Regions from separate parts of the Homo sapiens genome. Here region 2 is linked to region 1. The links come from fine-mapping of genetic effects on gene expression. A gene starts in region 1. The other region holds a variant in brackets. All regions are shown on one strand. Distances are between the middles of the regions.

Evidence for each region.
Region 2: its variant is fine-mapped to the expression of IGLL1 in whole blood (TOPMed, PIP above 0.99).

Annotation. Positions count from the first base shown.
Region 1 is chr22:23,577,713-23,583,077 of GRCh38, reverse strand. It overlaps IGLL1 (immunoglobulin lambda like polypeptide 1), which reads left to right and starts at 2,788. Exons shown (of 3, transcript NM_020070.4): 1 at 2,788-3,093. The coding sequence starts at 2,888. It also overlaps a transcript of DRICH1 not described here.
Region 2 is chr22:23,680,119-23,685,492 of GRCh38, reverse strand. It overlaps the pseudogene GUSBP11. Among named protein-coding and RNA genes, the nearest start is that of RGL4, 8.2 kb to the left of the region's middle. RefSeq lists a silencer at 37-331. The variant T/A (reference allele first, on the strand shown) is at 2,633.

The DNA of each region.
Region 1 (5,365 bases):
TCTCCAGCTGGAGTCAGCTCTGGGCTGCCTCACTTTAACAAAATGCTGGTTGCAGCCATTGGAATTAATTTTACACCCTCTGAGTTGCAGTGCAAAATTTGAAGACTGGCATTTGGAAGCTCAGTATCATCAAGGATTCATTTATTTTATGATGGTTGACAACATTTTCCAGGCCACACTAACTGGGTCAGCTGGTAATAATAATAATATGATAATTGGCCGGGCACGATGGCTCACGCCTGTAATCCCAGCTCTTTGGGAGGCTGAGGTGGGCTGATCGCCTGAGATCAGGAGTTCGGGACCAGCCTGATCAACATGGTGAAACCCCGTCTCTACTAGAAACACAAAAATTTAGCATGATGGCGGGCACCTGTAGACCAGCTGCCTGGGAGGCTGAAGCAGGAGAATTGCTCGAACCCGGGAGGCAGAGGCCACAGTGAGCCGAGATAGCACCATTGCACTTCAGCCTGGGCAGCAGAGTGAAACTCCATCTCAAAATAATAATAATAATAATAATAATAAGCCCCTGAAGGTATTACACATGCAGCACTTTCCAGTTTAAAAAGGACTTTCAAAGGACAAGTAGTGTATGGTCCCATCCATAGGAGGTATCCAGAGTACCCAAATATAGAGATGGGAACTAGCATGGTGGGTGCCAGGGGCTGGGGGAGGGAGGAATGGGAAGTTGGTGTTGAATGGGGACAGAATTTGAGTTCTGCAAGATGAAAAAGATCTAGACATGCCATTGCACTCCAGCCTGGGCAACAGAGTGAGACTCCGTCTCAAAAAAAAAAAAGAAAAAGCCAGTTGCGGTGGCTCACGCCTGTAAACCCAGCACTTTGGGAGGCCGAGGCAGGTGGATCATGAGGTCAGGAGTTTGAGACCAGCCTGACCAACATGCTGAAACCCCATCTCTACTAATAATACAAAAATTAGCTGGCATGGTGGTGGGCGCCTGTAATCCCAGCTACTCAGGAGGCTGAGACAGGAGAATCGCTTGAACCCGGGAGAAAGAGATTGCCATGAGCTAAGATTGCGCCACTGCACTCCAGCCTGGGCAACAGAGCAAGACTCTGAAAAAAGAAAAATCTAGAAATGGATGGTGGTGATGGTTGCACGACATTGTGAATGTAGTTAATGCCACTGAACTGTGTACTTAAAAATGGTCAAGATGGGCCAGGCGCGGTGGCTCACACCTGTGATCCCAGCACTTTGGGAGGCCCAGGCGGGTGGATCATGAGGTTAGGAGATCGAGACCAGCCTGGCCAACATGGTGAACCCCATCTCTACTAAAAATACAAAAATTAGCTTGTCGTGGTGGTGCATGCCTGTAATCCCAGCTACTCAGGAGGCTGAGGCAGGAGAATCGCTTGAACCAGGGATTCGGAGGTTTCAGTGAGCTGAGATCACGCCACACTGCACTCCAGCCTGGCGACACAGCAAGACTCTCAAAAAAAAAAAAAAGGTCAAGATGATAAATTTTAGGTTGTGTGTATGTTACTGCTTTTTCACAGATGAAGAAAACAACACTGACATGCATTATCTCCCAACACCAACCTCAACCCAGCCCTGGAGTGTGAGCAGAGCCAGCAGCATTTCCAGCCCCGCCTCTGGAGGAAGGAGAGGAACCTGAGACTCTTGGGTGACCTGAGGCGTCTCTGGCAGCACCAGCAAAAGAGCCTGGCCCTGGCCGCCCAGCACAGGTGCTCAGTCCCTCCTGACTGCCACTGCTCCCTCAACACCAAAGCACAGGGTCGCGAGATGTTGGGAGAGGGTCGGGGATGCTGGGCTGGGAGAGGACCGGGGGCCTGTCAGAAGCCATGACATGATGCACTCACCGCTCAGGAGGAAGCTACTGGCCTTTGAGTGAAATCTATAAGAATGAACTCTGGAGATGTATCGTACAACATGGAGTCTACAGTTAAAAACTGTATTGTATACTGGAAAATTGCTAAGATTAGATCTTCCATGTTCTCACTACAAAAGCATAAGTATGTGAGATGACGGACGTGTGTGTCAGCTTGATTTAATCATTTTGCAGTGTGGCAAAGCATCGCACTGTAGGTGGTAAATATATATACAGTTTTGTCAATTATACCTTCAGGAAGCTGGGGTGGTTGGTGTGTGTGTGTGTGTCTGTGTGATGTGAGGTCAGTGAGGTGCTGAACATGGTGCATTAAACAGCATTTTCATTCTTATCTCATGATTCCTGGACTTGAACCGTTGAGTGGCTTCTGGCTAAACCCAAACCTGTTTCCTGCTCTCTAACCACACCTCCCTCTAGGACCGGTTGGAGGAGCCTCAGCCCAGGCCCCTGAGCTCAAGCCCTGGGGGACTCCTGCTGGGCAGCTCTCTGGACCCCAGTGAGATGCTCCACAGACCCAGGGCGCCCTCGGGGAAGTGGGGAAGGAGGGAAGTCAGGTGCATCACCTCTTGGGACCAGCCCCGAGGGGACTCAAGCCCATCCAGGGCGCAGGTGCCTCCAAAGGAAAGCCCCAAGGGAGGGTCTTGGGGGGCCATGGCGCATCCCACCTCCCTGTGTGACCTCAGCTCTTGCTGACCCTCTGCCTGTGGTGGGAGGTCCCCAAACAAAGCACCCAGGGCCCCAGGGGCAAGGCCAAGCTGACAGGTGTGGGAGGCAGTTGAGCCCTGGATCCTGACCACAGCAGGGCAGTTGGCAGATGTGCCTCTGGGACAGAACCCCAGGGGTAACGGTCATGGACTCTGGAAGGGGCCTGGCTGGGGGCAGGGACCAGAGGATGAGGATGGGGCCACATGGACTGGGGTGCAATGGGACAGCTGCTGCCAGCGAGAGGGACCAGGGCACCACTCTCTAGGGAGCCCACACTGCAAGTCAGGCCACAAGGACCTCTGACCCTGAGGGCCGATGAGGCCAGGGACAGGCCAGGGGGGCCTTGAGGCCCCTGGTGAGCCAGGCCCCAACCTCAGGCAGCGCTGGCCCCTGCTGCTGCTGGGTCTGGCCGTGGTAACCCATGGCCTGCTGCGCCCAACAGCTGCATCGCAGAGCAGGGCCCTGGGCCCTGGAGCCCCTGGAGGAAGCAGCCGGTCCAGCCTGAGGAGCCGGTGGGGCAGGTAAGGGGTGAGAGATTCCAGGGGATGTGGGGGTCTGGGTGGCAGAGGCGGGAAAGGATGACCAAGGGGAGACGAGCCAGAGGGGTGAGGAGGAAGGTTAATCCCTGGAGGGGAGCCACAGACACTGACTTTAACTAAAGTGTCAAGATTTTGTCCATCTTTGAATTAATTTTTATTGCTTAATGTCATATTAAAATATTATTTATCTTGATTCCTGAGATTTCTTCCCCCACTTACATTTGGCACCAAGGCCAATGTCTCCCTCACCTCCCCCTAGTCCTTGGGGTAGGGCAGGACTGGAGGCAGGGGCAGGACGTCCACAGGAGTGGTGGCCGCTATCCCTGAAGGATGCCCAGGCCTCTCCCTCCTCCTCCTCCCACTCCTCCTCCCCCCCCTCCTCTTTTCCCCTTGGCCTATGTCACCTGTCCACTCCCACCCTCACTGGGCAGGGGCCACTCCCTGGAGCTCCAGCTAAGGTGTGAGGGGCCTTTCCTGGAGTCCCTGGGTCACTAGACCTCAGCCAGCATCGCCTCCTGAAACCAGCCCCTAGGAGACACAAGCTTATCCAGGGTGCAAGTGCCTCCAAAGAAGAAGCCCAGGAGAGGCTCTAGGGAGGCCACAACTCCCTGTGTGACCTCAGCCATTGCCACCACTCTGCGTGTGGTGGGAGGTCCCCAGACAAAGCACCAAGCATCGGGGTCCATTTATGAGCATTTGGGACACAACAGCCTGTTCACTGGTGCATGTTATACCCACAGGCGATAATCATTTCAGGGGCAGAACCTCCCTCTCGGTGGCCCCATAGGCAGGTCCTGCTGTGATCCCCTTTGTGCAGACGGGGATAGAGCCCGGAGAGGTGAGGTGACCCGTCCGAGTCACTCAGCTCATGGGCACAGATTCTAAGGCCCAAGCTATCCCCTCTAGCTCTCCCCTGTCCCATCCTCTAAGCTGATCGAGCGGACACGTGCATCTCTGGGACCTGAGTTTCCCTTTTTCTCTCTTTTTTTTCTTTTTCAAATAAAGTTTCACAGAGTTTCACTCTTGTCGCCCAGTCTGGAGTGCAATGGCGAGATCTTGGCTCATTGAAACCTCCGTCTCCCAGGTTCAAGACATTCTCCTGCCTCAGCTTCCGGAGTAGCTGGGATTACAGGCATCTGCCACCACACCTGGCTAATTTTGTGTATTTTTTTTTAGTAAAGACAGAGTTTCACCATGTTGGCCAGGCTGGTCTCAAACTCCTGACCTCAGGTGATCCACCCACCTCAGCCTCCCAAAGTGCTGGGATTACAGGCATGAGACACCACACCGGGCCTGAGTTTCCCCTTCTGCAATCTGAGGGGCCCTGACTGGTGAGGGCCTTCAGCGTCCCACCCACCCAGAGGATGCTGGGGTGGCTGTGGTGAGAGCTCCAGCAGTGGCAGCCGACCTGACCCACACCAGGAGCCCGGCCATGGAGGCGGGGTCAGCATGGTGGCAGGCCGGGACCGGGTGTCAGTGTCCTGCACGGACTTCTGAGCAAGGAGTCCCCATCAGGGTCAGGCTCTGTGCTGGGGCTGAGGTCCCAGAGGATCTAGATTTGCCCCAATTCAAGTCCACAAGGAGCGGGGGCCGGGTGAGGAGACAGCCACATGCAGGGTGATGCCTACAGAACAGAGACTGGGATGGGGAAGGCCCGAGGGGTCTCCACAAGGGACGGGTGACAGGTGGAGGGAGACACAGATAATAAAAAATGGTATTATGTTGGGGGGCTATTAATGTAAGTTTTTATATTAGAATCTTTAGAAATCTTATAGAAATACTATGGGCCGGGTGCTGTGTCTCATGCCTGTAATCCCAGCACTTTAGGACGCCAAGATGGGCAGATCACGAGGTCAGGAGATTGAGACCATCCTGGCCAACATGGCAAAACTCCGTCTCTACTAAAAATACAAAAACTAGCTGGGCGTGGTGGCGCGAGCCTATAGTCCCAGCTACTCGGGAGGGGAGGCAGGAGAATCGCTTGAATCAGGGAGGTGGAGGTTGCAGTGAGCTGAGATTGCACCGCTGCACTCCAGCCTGGACGACAGAACGAGACTCCCACTCAAAAAAAAAAAAAGGTATTATGCTGGGGGGGATATGAATATGAGTTTTTATAATCTTTAGAAATACTATGGGCCAGGTGCAGTGGCTCATGCCTGTAATCCCACAACTTTGGGAGGCTGAGGCGGGATTGTTTGAGCCCAGGAGTTTGAGATCAGCCTGAGCAACATAGCAAGACCCCATTTCTACAAAA
Region 2 (5,374 bases), 100 kb before region 1:
TCTAGGATCCTCCTTCCCAGACCACCATTGTTCCTCTCACTGCCCCTATGGCAGGAGACCAAAGCCATGACCCCATGGTCAAAGGCATCCATGTGCAGGACTGAAGTTGAGTGACTCATGTGGGGAGGGGCGGGGCACAGCTGCTTGCTGGAAGGGTGTTGGGAAGTATTGGTCCATCAGCTGTCATGTCCACCTTTTCCTGCTGAATCCCAGCGATCCTCAGTGGTCTGAGAAGGGTGTGACACCTGGGTTCTTGGCTGGCTGAGCTGGTGCTTTTGCAGCCTCTTTGGGGCTCTTGTATGTGAGGTCTCACCTGAGTTGCTTCAGGAAACCTTTGACCCTCAGGCTACCTCCTGCTTAAGAGCAGAGCCTTTGTGTGGAGATCTGGCTGGCCTCTCTAGCATCCAGCCTGTCCTGTCCTGTTATGTCTCGGTTTGAGGTTGTGCTGAGGGGTCTCTTCCCATAGAGGAGGCAAGGCCAGTCGTGTGGGTCAGAGTGAAGCATGGCGATCCCAGCTGGCTGTGCCCGGCCTTTGACTGGAGGAGTCTGAGAATGACCAAGTCTGGGGAGCTGCCCTTCCTGGGAAACAGCATGTCTCCTCCCCTATTGTGGAGTTTCTGGATGTGATCCAGAGTGTGCTGGGCCTCTGTAGCATGTGCTGGGTGTAGCTGTGTGATTCAGGGTGGGAGGTGCAGGGGATCATCTGCTCTGAGCCAGATAAGGCCTGGACAGGACTGGCGGGCAGCCCTCGAAGCCAGGTTTGATGGGAGAGTAGGCACGGGTAGGGAGGGGACAGGGTCACCGGGGCTGTGTGTCACCTGTTCTTGCTGCTTTGTCTGCCCTGGGAGTGAGAACAGAGGTGGGCTGCTGTGGACCCACTTTGGCTTCCTGCAAGCAGGTGTTCATGTGGGGAGCAAGGCGGTTGGGTGGGGGACAAAGCTGGTCTCTGAGGTGTTGAGTGGTTCTTTGTCTGTCATTGTCCTTTTTCTCTCTGCCTTCCCCAACAGCTCTGCTGTAGCAGCCCATTGACCAAGTAGGTCACTCAGAGCATCCTGGTCCTACACATAAGCGTTAAGGCCCCTGAAGGGCCAGAGAAGGCTTAGGAGTTTCTCAAGAGTGAGCCCAGGGTGGGAGGGGGCCAGAGTCACTGAGAACAGCCCATTTGAAAAGTCAGGCAGAGGGATCCTGAGCCCTGAATATGCCTGCCTGGCCTGCGGTAACCATGCCAGCAGGGTCAGGGCATTTGGCCAATTGCTGTCTTGGTCGAGGCAGGAACATCTTGCTTCCCCAGCCCCTGTCTTTTTGTCTCCAGTATCCTTGGAGCAGCTGCAGGGTGGGTAGTGGGGTGTCTCTCCCAGCTGCTTGAAGAGATGAGCCTCCACCCGGCTGCCTCTGCCAGGGGAAACGAGTAATGACTGCAGCAGGGAGAAAAGCGAGCCCAGCCCCTTTTAGAATCAACCCTGCTGCTCCGATTCTAATTTTCAGTTCAGATTTTGCAGGCACGAGTGTGGGTCCCTGAGTACCTGCCCTTTGAATTCTTTTGGTGAGGACTGAGCATTCCCCCAGGAGCTTCTCATCGAACCCCAAAAACACGGCCCCCAATTCACCACCTCATCCCTTCCCAGGACCTGCTGAAGCTCACACCCGTGGACCACCCAGACTGCCTGCCGCTACAGGATGCCCTCCGCATCTCCCAGGACTTCTTTCCGGCATCAGTGTGGACATTGACCCCACTGGACTGCAGTCACAGTGGACTCCCAAGGGGCAGGTGAGCTCATGGCACAGCAAGGCCTCACGCTCAGGTTGAGGAGCCCAGAGTGGACCAGATCCCCAGTCCCTTCTCTGATGGCACAGGCATCTCTCTGTGCCCCTTGTCTCTGCAACCCTGATTCCCCATTCCCAGCCAAGGAGAGGTCTTCGATCCCTGGTCATGCTGATTTGATTCCCTGTGGCATTGTGGGCCCTAGGCTGAGAGCTTTAAGCCCAGTCTCTCAATAATCCTAAGAATCCAGTGAGCCAGAAGAGGGCACAGGACCAGAGAGTCTCTCCAGGTACGCCACACAGTCTTTGAGCTGTGTCAGAGCTGGATTGTTTACCTGGGGCTGGCTGTTTGGAGGCCCCAGGCATTGTCCCCCACACCAGGGAAGTTGGCCTGTGGGTAACTCGTTCTTGAATGCAGACACCTGCCTATGCCATCAGGGTGACCCAGGAGGGTGAGGGAGCAGGACATCTCAGCCACTTTAGATTGACTTGCATGAGCAAGAGCCAGGAAGGGAGCCCCACAGAGGGAAAGGCTGGTATTAGAGGTGGCCAAGGCCATCCAGGTTGCTGGAACATTCCACATGGGCTCCTGGATGTCAAACAGCAGTTTCCCTGGGGGCCCTTCTTGGTGGAAGGGTGGGGGTTAGTCCAGTGAGGAGAAACAACACTCAGCATGAGAGGCACAATTAACCCCTGTGGGTCGGCAGCCTGGCCCAGATCAAAGGCTTCCTGACCGATAGAGGTTGTTATGTGGCCCTGAGGAGTGAAGACTGCCTGGGTTCATGCTGCTTTGTTACATTTGTGAGTGAGGGGCAGGTCTGGAGAGTGTCTGATGGCGCATAAGGAGCTGTTTCTGTGCAGTTGTTGGTTC[T/A]GGTTTGCAAAACCATGGGATATCACTAGTTTGGTTTACTCTGGGGATATCTGAAAAATCTCTGGAAGACTTAGAGTAGCATCAGTTGTAGGTCATCTTAACTGTACGGTTTCAATGCACGCACCTACATCTCGCAGTGTACACAGGTCACACGGTGTGTCATAGAGACAGGAAAGACTGGGACAGATGGTTGCAGCCCCATGGAAGCCCCCCTGACTCTGAGGGTGGCTGAGGGGAAACTCTGGAAATCCTCATGGAGTAGAAACCATCCAGAGCCCAGGTGAGAGGTGGCTGCAGGTCCCCCCAGGACACTTCTGCAGCCCCAACCGAAGGCAGCCCGGGGTCTCCCATCCCCTGGGTATATTTGTTAAAAATGTGTCCATCATATATGAATTTGGGTTTGGTATTTGGTTCCCTCGTTGTGTCTTGTTCTGTATTTTTGTGTTAATGTCAATACCGTATTGTTTGGACCACTATAGCTCTTCTATGTCATTTGTAATCAGGGAGCATAATACATCCATGTACTTTGTATTTCCCAGTGATGAGATTGCTAGATGACATAGTAATTGTATTTTTAGTTTGAGGAGGAACTGCCAACTATTGCTCATAGTGTGTACGCCCATTTACATTCCCACCAGTAGTGTCTAAGAGTTTCCCTCTCTGTAAATTTACACTTGTGATTGCGTTTTAAAAATTCTGTTTTTGCTTTTGGCAACATTCATTTTATGTGGATGGGGACGCTGTCTTAGTGTGATTTGATTTAAATTTTTGTGATGATTAGTGATGTGGGCAAGCTTTTTTTTTTTACCTGTTCATTTCCTGCCTTCTTTTCAGAAATGTCTATCAGTTCTTTGCCCAAGTTTTGTTGGATTAGTTGGTTTTGTGTATTTTCCTACCTTATGTTAGTTTCTGGTATATGTCAGATGAACACCTTCAGCTCCATGATTCCTTATACTTACCGCCTCACAGCATCCTGTGCTCATTCTGTCTCTTCCGCTCAATGACCACTGCCTGTGTCCCATTCTTCTCCCTCCCCAGGGCAGGGCCCAGACCTCCTGCCTCCCATGGAAGCCTGGCCCAATGCGGGGCCAGCCACATGGCACAGTGTCCAGGGCCTTTCTGAGTGGTGGACAGGCCAGTTGGCATGGAAAATGGTGTCTGGGGTTTCTGAGTTGACTGTTGAATGCAGACTCAACCCACTCACAACCAGTCACCACCACTGCCACCCAAGCAAGCCACCTGGGAGCCTGGAAATTGCTCTGCCCACCTCTTGCCATGGGCACAGACACATACCATAGGGAGGACTGCCAACAGACCCAGCCCACCTGCCCCTGGTCCCCAAGGATGACATTCAGGGGCCTGGGGATCACCCCAGCCCACCAACCACAACCTGTGTCCATGCAGGCTCCCACAGGGCCTAAGGACAGGCTGACCCCTCCCAGAGAACCCCCACCCCACAAGTACCCAAGTACTTCACCCAGGGACCTGGGTATAGACCTGCCCTGCCTTCCACTTCTGGCATGTGCTTGCACCAGCAGGGGGCCTAACAACAGGCCAGACCACCTGATGCCAGCATCAGGTCCCATGCCATCGTGGGACCTGGGGATCACCCTGCTCTACCCATGAGCACCATCAGGGGCCCCGGGGCAGGTTCATCCCACCTGGCATATGTATGCATGAACTAGAAATGTGTTTGCCTGCTGGGCATGGTGGCTCACGCCTGTGATCACAGCACTTTGGGAGGCCAAGGCGGGTGGATCACCTGAGGTCAGGAGTTTGAGACCAGCCTGGCCAACATGGTGAAACCCTGTCTCTACTAAAAATACAAAAATTAGCCAGGCGTGCTGGCATGTGCCTCTAGTCCCAGCTACTCTGGAGGCTGATGCAGGAGAATCGCTTGAACTCAGGAGGCGGAGGTTGCAGTGGGCCAAGATTGCGCCACTGCTCTTCAGCCTGGGGGATAATCCGATTGAGACTCCATCTCAACAGCAAAAAAAAAAGTGAGAAAGAAAAATGTGTTTGCCGCTGTGATACTTTCAACAACTCAGAGACATGGGGAAGCAGTTGATACGTCATAAAAAAAAGCCCGTGGCAGATCCAGCTGAGAGATGTGATGGCAGTTCTGCTGCTATGAAAGCAGTCTTTCTTTGACATTAAGGTTTGTCACAGCTCTTGAAAATTTGGCAGTGAGGTTGAAGGTCTCTCAGAAATTCCACGGATCCTTGTATTGCGTATGCATGAATAAAGTTAGAAAACTTTTTTTATCTTTCTCTAGAAATGAATATGAACTTGGGTTAACTTTCTGAGTCAGTTCCCTTGGAAACCTGGAAAAGGTGGAATGTCATCTGTGTTGGGTTACCAGACTACAAATAAAAATGGCCCAGAGTTGGTCATCATTATCTGAATTGGGAGAGCTGTGAATGAATTGTAAAACAATGGGGGCATCTCGAGTTAGAGAAGAGTATTTGCAATTTTTGAAGTCTGCCATCAATTGGACTTTGCTATTGTTAGAAATGTTTTGAAGTCTGTGGTCAACTTTTTCGTGGCTGGCTTTGGAGAAAAAATCAAGAGGTAAACCATACTTTGGGTTTCCCTGAGCGCAGTGGTGTTTGTAACTAGGCATGTCCGTTGCTGGGACCCTTGAAAACTTTGACCATGGGACTGTTAAAAGAAATCTCAGTGTCTTTTTGGGACACAGGCTTCTAAGCTTGGTAGCCCTGTGCCCACCCATGTGACCTTGCT